4 linked regions of the Homo sapiens genome follow. The protein of the gene in region 2 purifies or fractionates together with the protein of the main gene of each other region. This does not show direct contact. Each region holds a gene or a part of one and is shown on either strand. Other genes may lie near its edges. The genes, in order: NQO2, RELB, HSD17B4 and XPNPEP3.

Region 1 (3,571 bases), on a different chromosome or scaffold from region 2:
GAAATATCAAATTTTCTTTTCTTTCTGTCTCTTTCTCTCTCTTCTTTTTAGACAGTCTCACTCTGTCACCCAGGCTGGAATGCAGTGGCATGATCTCAGCTCACTGCAACCTCTGCCTCCCAGGTTCAAGTGATTCTCATGCCTCAGTCTCCTGACTAGCTGGGACTACAGGTGTGTTTCGTGGGAAGTCAGGGACCCCGAATGGAGCAACTGGCTGAGGCCATGGCAGAAGAATATAAATTGTGAAGATTTCGTGGACATTTATTAGTTCCCCAAATTAATACTTTTGTAATTTCTTATGCCTGTCTTTACTGCAATCTCTGAACGTAAATTGTGAAGATTTCATGGACAGTTATCACTTCCCCAATCAATACCCATGTGATTTCCTATGCTTGTCTTTACTTTAATCTCTTAATCCCATCATCTTCATAAGCTGAGGAGGATGTATATTGCCTCAGGACCCTGTGATGATTGTGTTAACTGCACAAATTGTTTGCAGAGCATGTGTGTTTGAACAATATGAAATCTGGGCACCTTGAAAAAAGAACAGGATAACAGCAATGTTCAGGGAACAAGAGAGATAACCTTAAACTCTCACTGCCGGTGAGCCAGGCGGAACAGAGACATATTTCTCTTCTTTCAAAAGCAAATGGGAGAAATATCGCTGAATTCTTTTTCTCAGCAAGGAACATCCCTGAGAAAGAGAATGCGTCCCTGAGGGTGGGCCTCTGAAATGGCCGCTTCGGGGCGGCAGCTGTCTTTTATGGTCCAGCTGTAGGGATGAAATAAGCCCCAGTCTCCCGTAGCGCTCCCAGGCTTATTAAGACAAGGAAATTCCTGCCTAATAAATTTTGGTCAGATCGGTTGTCTGCTCTCAAACCCTGGCTCCTGATAAGATGTTCTCAATGACAATGGTGCCCAAAACTTCATTAGCAATTTTAATTTCGCCCCGTCCCGTGGTCCTGTGATCTCGCCCTGCCTCCATTTGCTTTGTGATATTCTATTACCTTGTGAAGCATGTGATCTCTGTGACCCACACTCTATTTGTACACTCCCTCCCCTTTGGAAAATCACTAATAAAAACTTGCTGGTTTTACGGCTTGGGGGCATCACGGAACCTGCCGACATGTGATGTCTCCCCTGGACACCCAGCTTTAAAATTTCTCTCTTTTGTACTCTGTCCGTTTATTTCTCAGACCGGCCGACACTTAGGAAATATAGAAAAGAACCTACGTGAAATATTGGGGGTGAATTTCGCCCAATATCTGGCTGAATTTCCCCCGATAGATGTGTGCCACTACGCCCAGCTAATTTTTTGTATTTTTAGTACAGATGGGATTTTGCCATGTTGGCCAGGCTGGTCTTGAACTCCTGGCCTCAAGTGATCCACCCGCCTTGGCCTCCCAAAGTGCTGGGATTACAGGCATGAGCCACCGCACTTGGCCAGAAACACCAAACTTTCTTTTCTTTCCTTTTTTCTTTTTCTTTTTTTTTTTTTTTGAAACAGAGTTTCGCTCTTGTTGCCCAGGCTGGAGCAACGATCCCAGCTCACTGCAACCTCTGCCTCCCGGGTTCAAGCAATTCTCCTACCTCAGCCTCCTGAGTAGCTGGGATTACAGGCATGCGCCACCACGCCCGGATAATTTTTTGTATTTTTAGTTAAGACCGGGTTTCTCCATGTTGGTCAAGCTGGTCTCGAACTCCCGACCTCAGGTGATCTGCCCACCTTGGCCTCCCAGAGTGCTGGGATTACTGGTATGAGCCACAGCACCTGGCCCCAGAAATACCAAACTTTCTAATAGGTGGCAGTTTTAAAGCAATGGGCATTTTAAAAATCCAGTTATTCATAGCTCAACATCACAATACAATGGGTCAAATTATATCTCCTCAAAAATACCACCACTAAATCTTTTAAAAGCCCAACCTAATTTGGTTATCCTCTGTAAGAAGGTTTAGACCAGCTCCCTAACACCAAAATAAAGAACTGCTGGAATTAGTCTTCCATGCTAACCCTACATTTGCAGATATCAGCTACAGGCACCTTTCAGTGTGGCACAGTTCTGCTTCCATCTCCCCCAGTCCATCAAATCTGACACTTAAACAAAACATGAGGAATCAGACCCGCTGGTCTCATGGGAAGGCAGGGCCACATGGAGCCCATCTTTCAGTGGTGATGCTGATAACAAAGAGGACTCTAGGAAGAGTCAGGCCCTCCTGGCACTGGCAGTATCGTTCACACCAGGGGCTTCTGAAGCAGTATTTTCCTCATTGGAAAGAGTCTCCAGGCTTATATACTGACTTCGTCTGGGAGGCAGCCTGGTGATTTGCTTAATTAAATTTACCCTGGTCACCTTTAAGAAGATGTTAAACTCTTGATTTAAATTTTTCATAATGACACTTTAAGGAAAAGATACACGTATCAGTTTGAAGCAATGGGTTTCAGGGCATTGAGCTGGCTACAAAGGTTGAATTCCATAAGTTAGATTCATGGTTAACATTTTAATTTTACTTTCTCAGACTCTTGTTTCAATAAAGGAACTATACTTAGGGGCTTAACAGGAGAATAGATGCAAATGAAATACCTACACCAATGGTTCTCAACTGGGGCAGTGTTGTGCCTGCTAGGGGACGTTTCTCAATGCCTGGAGACATTTTGGTTTGTCACAGCCGGTGGGGGAGGGGTGCTACTGGCATCTGGTGGGCAGAGGCCAGGGATGGTGCTAGGTGCTAAACAGGGTGCACAGGATGACCCCCCAAAACATAGGATTATCTGGCCCAGAATGTCAGTGGTGCCAAGGGCGAAAATCCGAATCTACACCATAATGTATAGAGTAAGGTGAACCTGTGCGTTCTAACACGAAAGGCTCTCCATGTTATATCGTTAGGTGAAATTAAAAAGTTGAGAGATTGCATGTTCATGTATATGTGCATGATAAGCAGTTGCAAAAGCAAAGATAGAATCGTACTGAATTTTTACCCAAGATGCCTCCTGGGGTTCATTCACTTGAGCCCCTGCTACAGCCCAGGGAGAATTTCAGGGCCTGGAGGCACAGCAAAGACAGGATAGGCAGGGCCCCACTTTTGAGGAACCTAAATTCTGGAGGGAGTCGAAAGGAACAATGAAACAAGTGAGAACATAGAAAACAAGATAATTCCAGATAGTTTATACACTTCCACGTGGCTTGGATTTTTTACAACAATGTATCCAATTTCTGATTAAGAGTCTAACTCCCACCTGGAAGGTCAATGTGGGAGGGTCACTTGAGCTCAGGAGTTTGAGACCAGCCTGGGCAATACAACAAAATCCCATCTCAAAAAAAAAAAAGTCTTACTCCACAATAGTGAATCATTACCTGCCATAGCGTAAGAAGGTGGATTCCTTCTCTCTGATTTGATGGGTGGCTGGGGCTTTCCTGCGTAGTCTCTCTTCAGCGAGTCCAGCAATCTGGAAGACAAAACGAACCCAGAGGGGGTGGGGAGAGGCATAGGTGAGGTCGAATGTACCACATCTAGGCATCACTGCTGCTTCCTGACAGACACGCAAACACATCAGAGAAAGACCTCTCAAGAG
Region 2 (3,571 bases):
GATTCAGGATTTTTTTTTTTTTTTTTGAGACGGAGTCTTGCTCTGTTGCCCAGGCTGGAGTGCAGTGGTGTGATCTCAGCTCACTGCAACTTCCGCCTCCTGGGTTCAAGCGATTCTCCTGTCTTAGCCTCCCAAGTAGCTGGGATTACAGGTGTGCACCACCATGCCCAGCTAATTTTTGTATTTTTAGTAGAGACAGGGTTTCACCACATTGGCCAGGCTGATGTCAAACTCCTGCCCTCAGGTAATCCACCTGCCTCGGCCTCCCAAAGTGCTGGGATTACAGGCATGAGCCAGCATGCCTGGCTTGGATTCAGGATGTTTATCCCCATCTTCAGAGTAGGAAACTGAGGTTAAAAGAGGGGCAGTTACCTGCACAGGGCACACAGCAAGTTTACTATTGTAATTACCGCCATTTACTGAGTGCTTCCATGTACCAGGTACTTTGCATACCTATTTTACACATAAAGACAGTAAGACCCGAGAGGTTTATCTTGTAGATGGCCAGTGGTAGAGCCTGGATTTGGTGCCAGGTCGGACTTATTCTAAAGCCTAATGGGCCAGGCATGGTGGCTCATGCCTGTGATCCCAGCACCTTGGGAGACTAAGGCAGGAGGATCACTTGAGGCCAGGAGTTCAAGACCAGCCCAGGTGACATGGCAAGATGCCCGTCTCTATAAAAATAAAAAAATTAGCCAGGCGTGGTGGCATGCGCCTGGGGTCCCAGCACCATGGGAGGCTGAATGGGGAGGATTGCTTGAGCCTGGGAAGTGGAGGCTGCAGTGAGCCATGGTCACACCACTGCACTCCAGTCTGGGTGACAGAGAAAGATGCTATCTCAAAAAAAAAAAAGAAAAAAGAAACAACTAAAGTCTAATGTTTTTTCCACAGTCCCAACTGACATCTCAAGGATGAAAAGCTTTCAGCCCTGGAGTCTGCATGAGTCCGAGACTGTTGACTCTAAGCTTTTCAGAATCTCCTACTATTACAGCGGGGAGCTGGTTAAATGAATGGTTTTAACCCTATCTGACCCAGTGAGATTTGTAGACAATATTACCTACCTCTATTCACAGTCACTCCCAAAGTCCATATTTTATTTTATTTTATTATTATTTTTTTTTTGAGATGCAGTCTCGCTCTGTCACCCAGGCTGGAGTGCAGTGGCATGCAACCTCCGCCTCCTGAGTTCAAGTGATTCTCCTGCCTCAGCCTCCCGGGTAGCTGAGATTACAGGCACCTGCCAGCAGGCCCGGCTAATTTTTGTGTTTTTAGTAGAGACGGGGTTTCACCATGTTGGCCAGGCTGGTCTCGAACTCCTGACCTCAAGTGATCTGCCTGCCTCAGCCTCCCACAGTGCTGGGATTACAGGCGTGAGCCACCGTGCCTGGCCAAAACTCCATATTTTACACCAAACTGTAGTATAAAAGAGAAAGAAAAGGAAATTAATACAGCATATATAATCACATTTATTTCAATATGTAAACGCCCCACAGGATATATGAGGAAGGTGGCAGTTGTTTGTGACTATATATAGGCTCCTTGTTAATGCCGTGGCCACAAATGCAGCCTGACCCAGCTGCGCAGACTTAGTGACTTATATGTCACACGTGCAGGGTTGCGGTTGGTGAGGGGATTTTCCAAAGTGGCGAACAACTCTTGGTCTAAACAATTAGTGTGCTGGTTGCAATCTTTGAAAATTCAGTGGGTATTACAGTTATGGGAAACTCCAGCCTGGGTGACAGAGTTAGACCTCGTCTCAAAAAAGAAAAAGGAAAAACAATTATGGGAAAGAATATTATTGGTGTCAAACAGAGCAAGGGCCAGGTGTGATGCATGCCTGTAAGCCCAGATGTTTGGGAGACTAAAGTGGAAGTATTGCTTGAGTCTGGGAGGCGGAGGTTGCAGTGAGCTGAGATCGTGCCATTGCACTCCAGCCTGTGCGAGATCCTGTCTTAAAAACAAACAAACAAACAAACAAACAAATCCACTCAGCAACAATAGAGCAAGTTTCTGGGATCTGGTCATTTTAAACAGGTTTCTTATTGACTCGAATCTTTGGCAGGATGTTCAGAAGGCTTGCTGGCTGTGGGATGGCTGTGCGGGACTGTCCCTGGTATTATAAACTGTCCAGCATAACTGGTCCTGTCTACTTGCGGTAGGGTCCACATCAGTGTCAACCAGCCACCCCCCAAATCCCATTTTTCCCCTAGGGGGCAGCACTCCCCCACTGAGACCAATGGTTAATGGTATTTTATAGGCTTGGGCTTTAGAAGTTCAGAGCAGGCTTCAGAAGGTATTTAATGCCAGCAGGGCTGAGCCAGTGACTCAAAGCTGCCAAGTGGGACTGGCCCTGCCTAACGGGGCTGGTTTTTATTTGCTGCTGCCTGTGGCTGCTGAGCAAAAATTCTGGCTTCACTTGCTATATCTTCCTTTTTTAAAAAAGAAAAATCTGGGGAGGCCGAGGTGGGCGGACCACCTGAGGTTAGGAGTTCGAGGCCCTGGAGGCTGGGATCGCACCACTGCACTCCAGCCTGGGCAACAGAGAGAATCTGTCTAAAAAAAAAAAAAACAATTCTGGAAATCCGAAATAATGTGATGTCTTATAATTTTAATTGTGGGCTCCAAGTTTTTCCTAATCTTTTACTTGGAAAAAAAAGTTTTAGTTTTTTCCTGTCTAGTTTTTCTTTTTAAGTTTTATTGAGGTATAATTGATGTAAGAAAAATTGCACATACTTAATGTATACATTTTGATGAATTTGTTATTATTCCTTTTTTTTTTTTTTTGAGACAGAGTTTTGCTCTTGTTGCCCAGGCTGGAGTGCAATGGTGCGATCTCTGCCTCTCAGGTTCAAGCAGTCCTCTTGCCTCAGCCTCCTGAGTTGGTAGGATTACAGGCCTGTACCATCATGCCTGGCTAATTTTGTATTTTTAGTAGAGAGGGGGTTTTGCCATGTTGCCCAGGCTGGTCTCGAACTCCTGGCCTCAGGTGATCCACCCGCCTCAGCCTCCCAAAGTGCTGGGATTGCAGGCACGAACCACCGTGCCCAGCCCTTTTGATTAGTTTGGATGATAAAAGAATTTAAACCTAGAGACCAGGCGCGGTGGCTCACGCCTGTAATCCCAGCATTTTGGGAGGCCGAGGCAGGTGGATCACCTGAGGTCAGGAGTTCGAGACCAGCCTGGCCAACATGGAGAAACCCCATCTATACTAAAAATACAAAAATTCTTGGCCGAGCGTGGTGGCTCAGGCCTGTAATCCCAGCACTTTGGGAGACTAAGGCAGGCAGATCACAAGGTCAGGAGGTGGAGACCATCCTGGCTAACATGGTGAAACCCCGTCTCTACTAAAAATACAAAAAATTAGCCAGGTGTGGTGGCGGGCGCCTATAGTCCCAGCTACTCGAGAGGCTGAGGCAGGAGAATGGCGTGAACCCAGGAGGTGGAGCGTGCAGTGAGCTGAGATCGTGCCACTGCACCCCAGCCTGGCCAACAGAGCGAGACTCCATCTCAAAAAAGTAAAATAAAATAAAAATACAAAAATTAGCCAGGCATGGTGGCAGGCACCTGTAAT
Region 3 (3,407 bases), on a different chromosome or scaffold from region 2:
AGCACCTCCCAAATCAACTTCCTGCACATGAATCTCCATCTGAAAGTCAGCTTCCTGGGAAACTCAGCCCATACTAGCCACCCACACATATTCTCCTCAGCTGTGTTACCTGATTGAAATTTACTCCATCTCTGAGCTTAGCATACCACCTGCTGCTGGTCACCTCTGCAGCCAACTCATCCAAAGAGCATCTCCCAGTGCACTTCATCAGAGCTAAATGCTGAGGAAAACAGTGATGTGGCAGTACTTGCTAGTGACTATCTTTCTGTTTTGAGACTGCTGATTCTTCAAGAAAGCTACACTTGGTAGATTTATAAACATTATATGTAGTAAAGAATTTCCAGCAAAGGGGAGGGGAGAAGAAAGAAAACTATTTGGGAGCACAAAGACTTTTCTCTTGCTTTAAAAGAGAATACTATCAGAACAAAGTATGAAAAATGAGTGCATACATGGAAATTCACATAAAAACTGGGGTATCAATAAATAAAAAAACAGAAAATCACAAAAAAACAAAGGTATCAAAGGCCTTTATTGATTTAATTTTCCTTTCAACTTATCAATGCTATCACAAATTCTAAGGAAACAGGACTTGGGCAAAATTTTTTATTATGAAGATACAGATCTAAGAACAGAAGGATAATTATGTGCTAGCTTATATATAGTTCCTTGTAAAAATAATGATACATGAAAAATTAGTAGAAAATGAAAATCTGCAGTTATCTGATATCTGAAAATGTTAAGCAATTTCCCCTGCATCTTAGTTCTAATCACTTTTGCAGAATAATCAAGCATATTTGGGTGAAGAGAGTATTTAATGATTCCATTTTTATTAATAGTGTAGTGTGCCCTTCAGAGCTTGGCGTAGTCTTTAAGAATCATCTGAAGTTTCTGGCTCAGCATGATGTTCCCTCTGGCCTTCAGCCTGCCACTAAAGAATGCCTGCAAGGAGAGGAGGGAAAAAGAGTGCCAACTGTTACCATGTTATAGTTTATTTCTTTTTTTTTTTTTTAAGATTATTCAGACTGAATACAATTGAGCTAATAATTCTGGACAACAAAGGCAACCTTTATTTAGCAATGACAATTTAATAACTACAGATAGCACATTTTTTTAGACATCTAAAAAAAAGAAAAATCATTCCTGTGTATTTTAGAAAACTATACAATAATTTATCTGAACTCATGGATCTGGGAGTTCTGTTTCAACCTACGTTTCTGGCTTTACTTTATGTTCTTACAATTTGAGACCATATTAATAAAAGGCTACACTGTATTCCTAATAAAAATATTCAATTCAGAACTTCTAAAAGCAGATTTAAAATATTTACTACAGTTTCATGAACTAGAAAGCCACGAAATGACAAATTAGAGAATATAACACAATGTTGAATAGATCACAGCTGTAGCATCAGAATGCCTGAGTTAAAATCCAGGCTGTGCCCCTTAATAGCAAGGTGAGCTTGAGAAAATGCTTAGATACGTGGCCTCTGTGAGTTTCAATCTCCTCATCTATAAAAGGCATAACAACAGTCCCTAAATAACACAACTCTGTTGTGCGTGTTAAATAAAGTAATGTGTAGAGTGCTTAGCTTAGTAGTTTGACATGTGATAAGAGAGTATTAATTCATCATTACCAAGCAAAAGCTGGTGTGTTAAAAACGAAGGGTTCCTGTAGCAGTTTTGTATCTAACCTGATACAGAAACTGGTGCAAGTTCCTTAAGTTCTCCTTCAGTGTAAATTCCCTATCAGTAAAATAAAAATAATCAATCATAGTTTTTATAGCTTACATAAAATATGAAGTGAAAAAGCCTCTAGATTTCTAGCTAAATGGAAAAAATAGTGATACCTACATACACTGAGCATTACAAAGCAGCTCCACAAATATAATCTCATTTAAGAATTACAGCTGTCAATTTGAAGTGGGCACATCAGCAGTTCTTACCCCAGTTGACAGATGAGAAACTGAATTTCAGAGAGCTTATTAAATAACCTGCTCAAGTCTACAGAGCCAGCAAGAAGTAGGGCCAGGGCTTAAACTCAGGTGTTCTTTGCTCAGCAATGCTTGTTAACAATACTTGTTAACGAGCAGCACTTAGTCTCAGAAGCAAACCCTCGTGAACTGGAGAAAAGGCAACAACTTTTTATTCCAGAAATAGTCAGAGAGAGCTCATTCAGTCACAATCAAATGCATTCAAACAGGAGACCAGAATTTCAAAACTAAGATTTCTTTCACTATGCAGTTACAAAAAACAAACAAACAAAACGATGGTCTGCAACTCATGCAGGGAAGGAGTCAGTACTTAGGCCAGCCTGCTATGTACTAAACTCTGAAAGAGATTTACAACCTAAAACAAGAACACCTAATTACTAGAAGTAAAAATATCAATTTTGGACATTTTTGAGCAGAAGAATTTTGTACATAAATCTTTCCTCCTATCTATTTTCTTATTTCTTAAAGCCCTTAACCATACGTCCATATTGCCAGTTTCCAAACTCTGCACTGCCATGCACCGGACATCACAGCAAACTCTCTCAGGGACACTTTCCCAATACTGTTAATTTGGGAGGGAAATACAGTCATACTGGTTGAACACAAAAAACTAATTGTTTTGAACTACTTCATAAATGAAACTGTTAGGTATATGGTTTGGCCTAGGAGTGCCATGCAAAAAGTAGTAAGACTATAAACTGCCATAAAGGAAGAAGGTCTGGAAGCACTGTGCTTTCCAGAAAGGCTATACCAACTACTGATTGATTGACACAGGGTCTTGCTCTGTCACCCAGGCTACAGCTGCATGATCACACTCACTGCAGCCTAAGCCTCCTGGGCTCAAGTGATCCTCCCAACTCAGCCTCTCAAGTAGCTGGGACTACAGGTGTGTGCCACCACACCAGGCTAATTTTTTTTTTTTTTTTTTTTTGGTAGAGACAGGGTCTCACTGTCTCACCCAGGCTCAAACTCCTGGACTCAAGCAATCCTCCTGCCTTGGCCTCCCAAAGTGCTGGAACTACAGGCACGAGACATTGTCCCTGGCCTATACCAATTTTATATTCCCTCCAGTTGTGTGTAAATTATCTTATCCCAACCTTAAAAATACTATTTTCTTACACTTTGAAAATATGAGGCAAAAATAACATGCTTTAATTTGTATTTTTGGATACTGGGAAAAATTTTTTTCTTTTGTATGTTAGTCATTTCTATTTATTTCATTAATTATTGTTCCATACCTTTTGTCCACTTCTTCTTTTTTATTATTATTATTATACTTTAAGTTCTAGGGTACATGTGCACAATGCGCAGGTTTGTTACATATGTATACATGTGCCATGTTGGTGTGCTGCACCCGTTAACTCGTCATTTAGCATTAGGTATATCTCCTAATGCTATCCCTCCCCCCCTCCCCCAA
Region 4 (3,239 bases), on a different chromosome or scaffold from region 2:
TTTTCTACAAGTCATATGTACTTACCACTCAGCCCCCTCAAATTTGTTCCATTGTGCCATACAAAGTATCTTTTTGTGCCTGCCAGAACGTGAGAAATGTTAAAGGTACTCCTCATAGACAGTCTCAGATTTTAAAGATGGTTCCTAACAGGGAGAGAGAGATGGCTACACTTACGATTCATTATATGGTTGACAAAGGTCAAATATTCATAATTTTGCAACTTGATCCTATTTCCCCACAAAATTCATCCTTCATAAAATGTGCATGGCTACAGTTTACAGTCTTGAGTGTTATGGGGACTTTCTGGAGACCTTTCAGTCAGTTTTGTGCCAACCTTTTAATAGGCTGGATCAAATCCACCAGATTCTTCCTCTATAAGACTGATAAAATCATTTCAAGTTTGCTATCATGATTTTGTGACAGCAGCTAATGAATACTTTGTAAATTATTTTGTAAAACCAGATGGTCTCACGTTTATACTGTTTATACTAAATAGACCGTAAACTCTAGATTCTAAAGTAACACACACACACCATACCCCTCTATATTGTTTTATAGTTTTATTTTTTTTAAATGACAGTTACAAGTGCTTTTCCCTTGATGGGCAATGACGTAACTATTTTCAGTTATTAGTAATGCCTTAAAAAGTAACAGCATTTTGTCTAAACTGAACTTATATAATTGCACAAAAGTCATGGAAAGCATTAAGAAATGCTGGTAAAGATTGAAGTTTTCTCAGATTCTTGCGCAATTCCAAGAAGCCTTGATTCCAGTGGGTCCTCTGATTCAAACAATAATGATGCTCAAACTCAGTGACACACAGGTAGAGAACAGCAGCACAACCAGGAGAACCCATGTGGTTTGTAACAGTGAAATTCTGCTCTACTGTTAAGGTTTAATGATGCATTCATTCATCTTTTCATTAGGAGCATAAAAAACACCTCAAATTATATTTTCTCAGGCTTAAAACTTGTTTTGAGCTATGGATTCTACTTCAGGAAACAAAAATTAAAAAAAAAAAAACACAATCACACCATAAAAACCTCTTCTAAGCAGGTTCCTTTATGTTGCTACTGTCTGTGGTGCCTGCCTAATTTTCTAATAGACACACAAACGAATTACATTCTCAGCTATCAGACACTAGTTGAGGGACAGCAGATAGGTTCTAACTCAAATTCTGTTTTATTGGCAGAAGTTATTGGAAACACTGTTACAAAGGACTCCGAGGTCACCGCTGGACTGGTGAACAGCTCACTGTGCTTTCTTCTCCATCTCTGACATGGGAACAGGAGGGGGAGAAGCAGCATTTGTGCTTCACATTTCTGATCTCTGTATTATTAACAAAGCTGAACAGGGTGTGGGTGTGGATATTTGGAAAGACATAACAAAGGTACATTTTTCTGTTTTAATAAGTTGCAATGTCTTTAGATGGAGGTTTAACATGTTTTATTTGTATCTTAATCTCAAGACAGTATTTCTACGGTGAAGGTTTTTCCCTTTCTCACCTTACAAAAACGGAGAAAAAAGCAAGGTTTTGAAGGAAGATGCACACACAGTACTTTAAGTTACTCTCAGAAGCATTTTCCTAACGTGGATACTATGATTATGAGAGGAGGAGAGTTCTCACTCCAGTTTTTCTCTTCTTTTTTATTGAGACAGGGTCTTTCTCTGTTGCCCAGGGTGAAGTGGCACAATCATGGCTCACTGCAGCCTTGACCTCCTAAGCTCAAGCGATCCTCCCACCTCAGCCTCCTGAGTAGCTGGGACTATAGGTGCAAACCACCACACCTGGCTAACTTTAAATTTTTTTGTTGAGACAAGGTCTCTCTATGTTGCCTAGGCTGGTCTCAAACTCCTGGGCTCAAGTGACCATCCCTCCTTGGTCTCCCAAAGTGCTGGGATTATAGCTGTGATCCACTGCACCCAACTTTACTATAGTATTTATACTGTTGTGTTTCAAATAAAGAACACAGTCTGTTTCCTAATTATGGTGACAAAATAGTAATTCCTGAAATAAATACATAAAAGTATGTGACACTGGATATCCAGATATGTTTCCTTCATTTAGGTGGTATTGTTAATGATCTAACCATGTATCTTCAATTCAGGGAGAAAAATTCCAGTAGTAACATTTGAGTAATTTTTTTTAAGTTAAGATTTTTAATAGGAATGCCTGGTATATATATTATTTATTATACTTAGAACTAAAGGCTCGGCTGGGCACGGTGGCTCACACCTGTAATCCCAGCACTTTGGGAGGCCAAAGTGGGCAGATCACGAGGTCAGGAGATCAAGACCATCCTGGCCAACATGGTGAAACCCTGTCTCTACTAAAAATACAAAAATTAGCTGGGCATGGTGGTGCGTGCCTGTAATCCCAGCTACTTGGGAGGCTGAGGCAGGAGAACTGCTTGAACCAGGGAGTTGGAGGTTGCAGTGAGCCAAGATGGCGCCACTACACTCCAGCCTGGCGACAAAGCAAGACTGTCTCTGGCTGGGGGCCGTGGCTCATGCCTGTAATCCCAGCAGTTTGGGAAGCTGAGGTGGGTGGATCACAAGGTCAGGAGATCAAGACCAGCCTGGCCTGGCCAAGATGGTGAAACCCCGTCTCTACTAAAAATACAAAAATTGGGTGTGGTGGCAGGTGCCTGTAATCCCAGTTACTAGGGAGGCTGAGGCAGGAGAATTGGTTGAAGCCGGTGGGTGGAGGTTGCAGTGAGCCAAGATCACACCACTGTACTCCAGCCTGGGTGACAGAGTGAGACTCTATCTCAAAAAAAAAAAAGAACTAAAGGCTCAACACAAATAAATGATAAATGTTCAATGTGATGGATATGCTAATTGTTCTGATCTGATCATTATATATGTATCAAAACATCATTATTTACCCTGTAAATACGTACAATTATATGTCAATTAAAAACTTTAAAAAGGCTGGGTGCAGTGGCTCACGCCTGTAATCCCAGCACTTTGGGAGGCTGAGGTGGGCAGATTATGAGGTCAGGAGATTGAGACCATCCTGGCTAACACAGTAAAACCCCATCTCTACTAAAAATACAATAAACTAGCCGGGCATGGTGGCACGCGCCTGTAGTCCCAGCTACTCAGGAGGCTGAGGCAGAAGAATTGCCTGAACCCGGGAGATGGAGGTTGCAGTGAGCCAAGATCGTGCCACTGCACTCCAGCCTGGGTGACAGAGCGAGACTCCATCTCAAAAAAAAAAAAAACAAAAAAACCC

What was found.
Region 1: the proteins of RELB (region 2) and NQO2 purify together in Homo sapiens (tandem affinity purification; one large-scale study listed by IntAct). This does not show direct contact.
Region 3: the proteins of RELB (region 2) and HSD17B4 purify together in Homo sapiens (tandem affinity purification; one large-scale study listed by IntAct). This does not show direct contact.
Region 4: the proteins of RELB (region 2) and XPNPEP3 purify together in Homo sapiens (affinity purification with mass spectrometry, with the first as the bait; one large-scale study listed by BioGRID). This does not show direct contact.

Annotation. Positions count from the first base shown.
Region 1 is NC_000006.12:3,006,342-3,009,912, reverse strand, and holds part of NQO2 (ribosyldihydronicotinamide dehydrogenase [quinone]), read right to left. Parts: intron 3,446-3,571; 5' UTR 3,361-3,445; coding exon 3,354-3,360; intron 1-3,353. UniProt on the Homo sapiens protein: The enzyme apparently serves as a quinone reductase in connection with conjugation reactions of hydroquinones involved in detoxification pathways as well as in biosynthetic processes such as the vitamin K-dependent gamma-carboxylation of glutamate residues in prothrombin synthesis.
Region 2 is NC_000019.10:45,014,895-45,018,465, forward strand, and holds part of RELB (transcription factor RelB), read left to right. Parts: intron 1-3,571.
Region 3 is NC_000005.10:119,539,437-119,542,843, reverse strand, and holds the end of HSD17B4 (peroxisomal multifunctional enzyme type 2), read right to left. Parts: intron 940-3,407; coding exon 850-939; 3' UTR 512-849; downstream 1-511. UniProt on the Homo sapiens protein: Bifunctional enzyme acting on the peroxisomal fatty acid beta-oxidation pathway.
Region 4 is NC_000022.11:40,930,123-40,933,361, reverse strand, and holds the end of XPNPEP3 (xaa-Pro aminopeptidase 3), read right to left. Parts: 3' UTR 547-3,239; downstream 1-546. UniProt on the Homo sapiens protein: Catalyzes the removal of a penultimate prolyl residue from the N-termini of peptides, such as Leu-Pro-Ala. Also shows low activity towards peptides with Ala or Ser at the P1 position.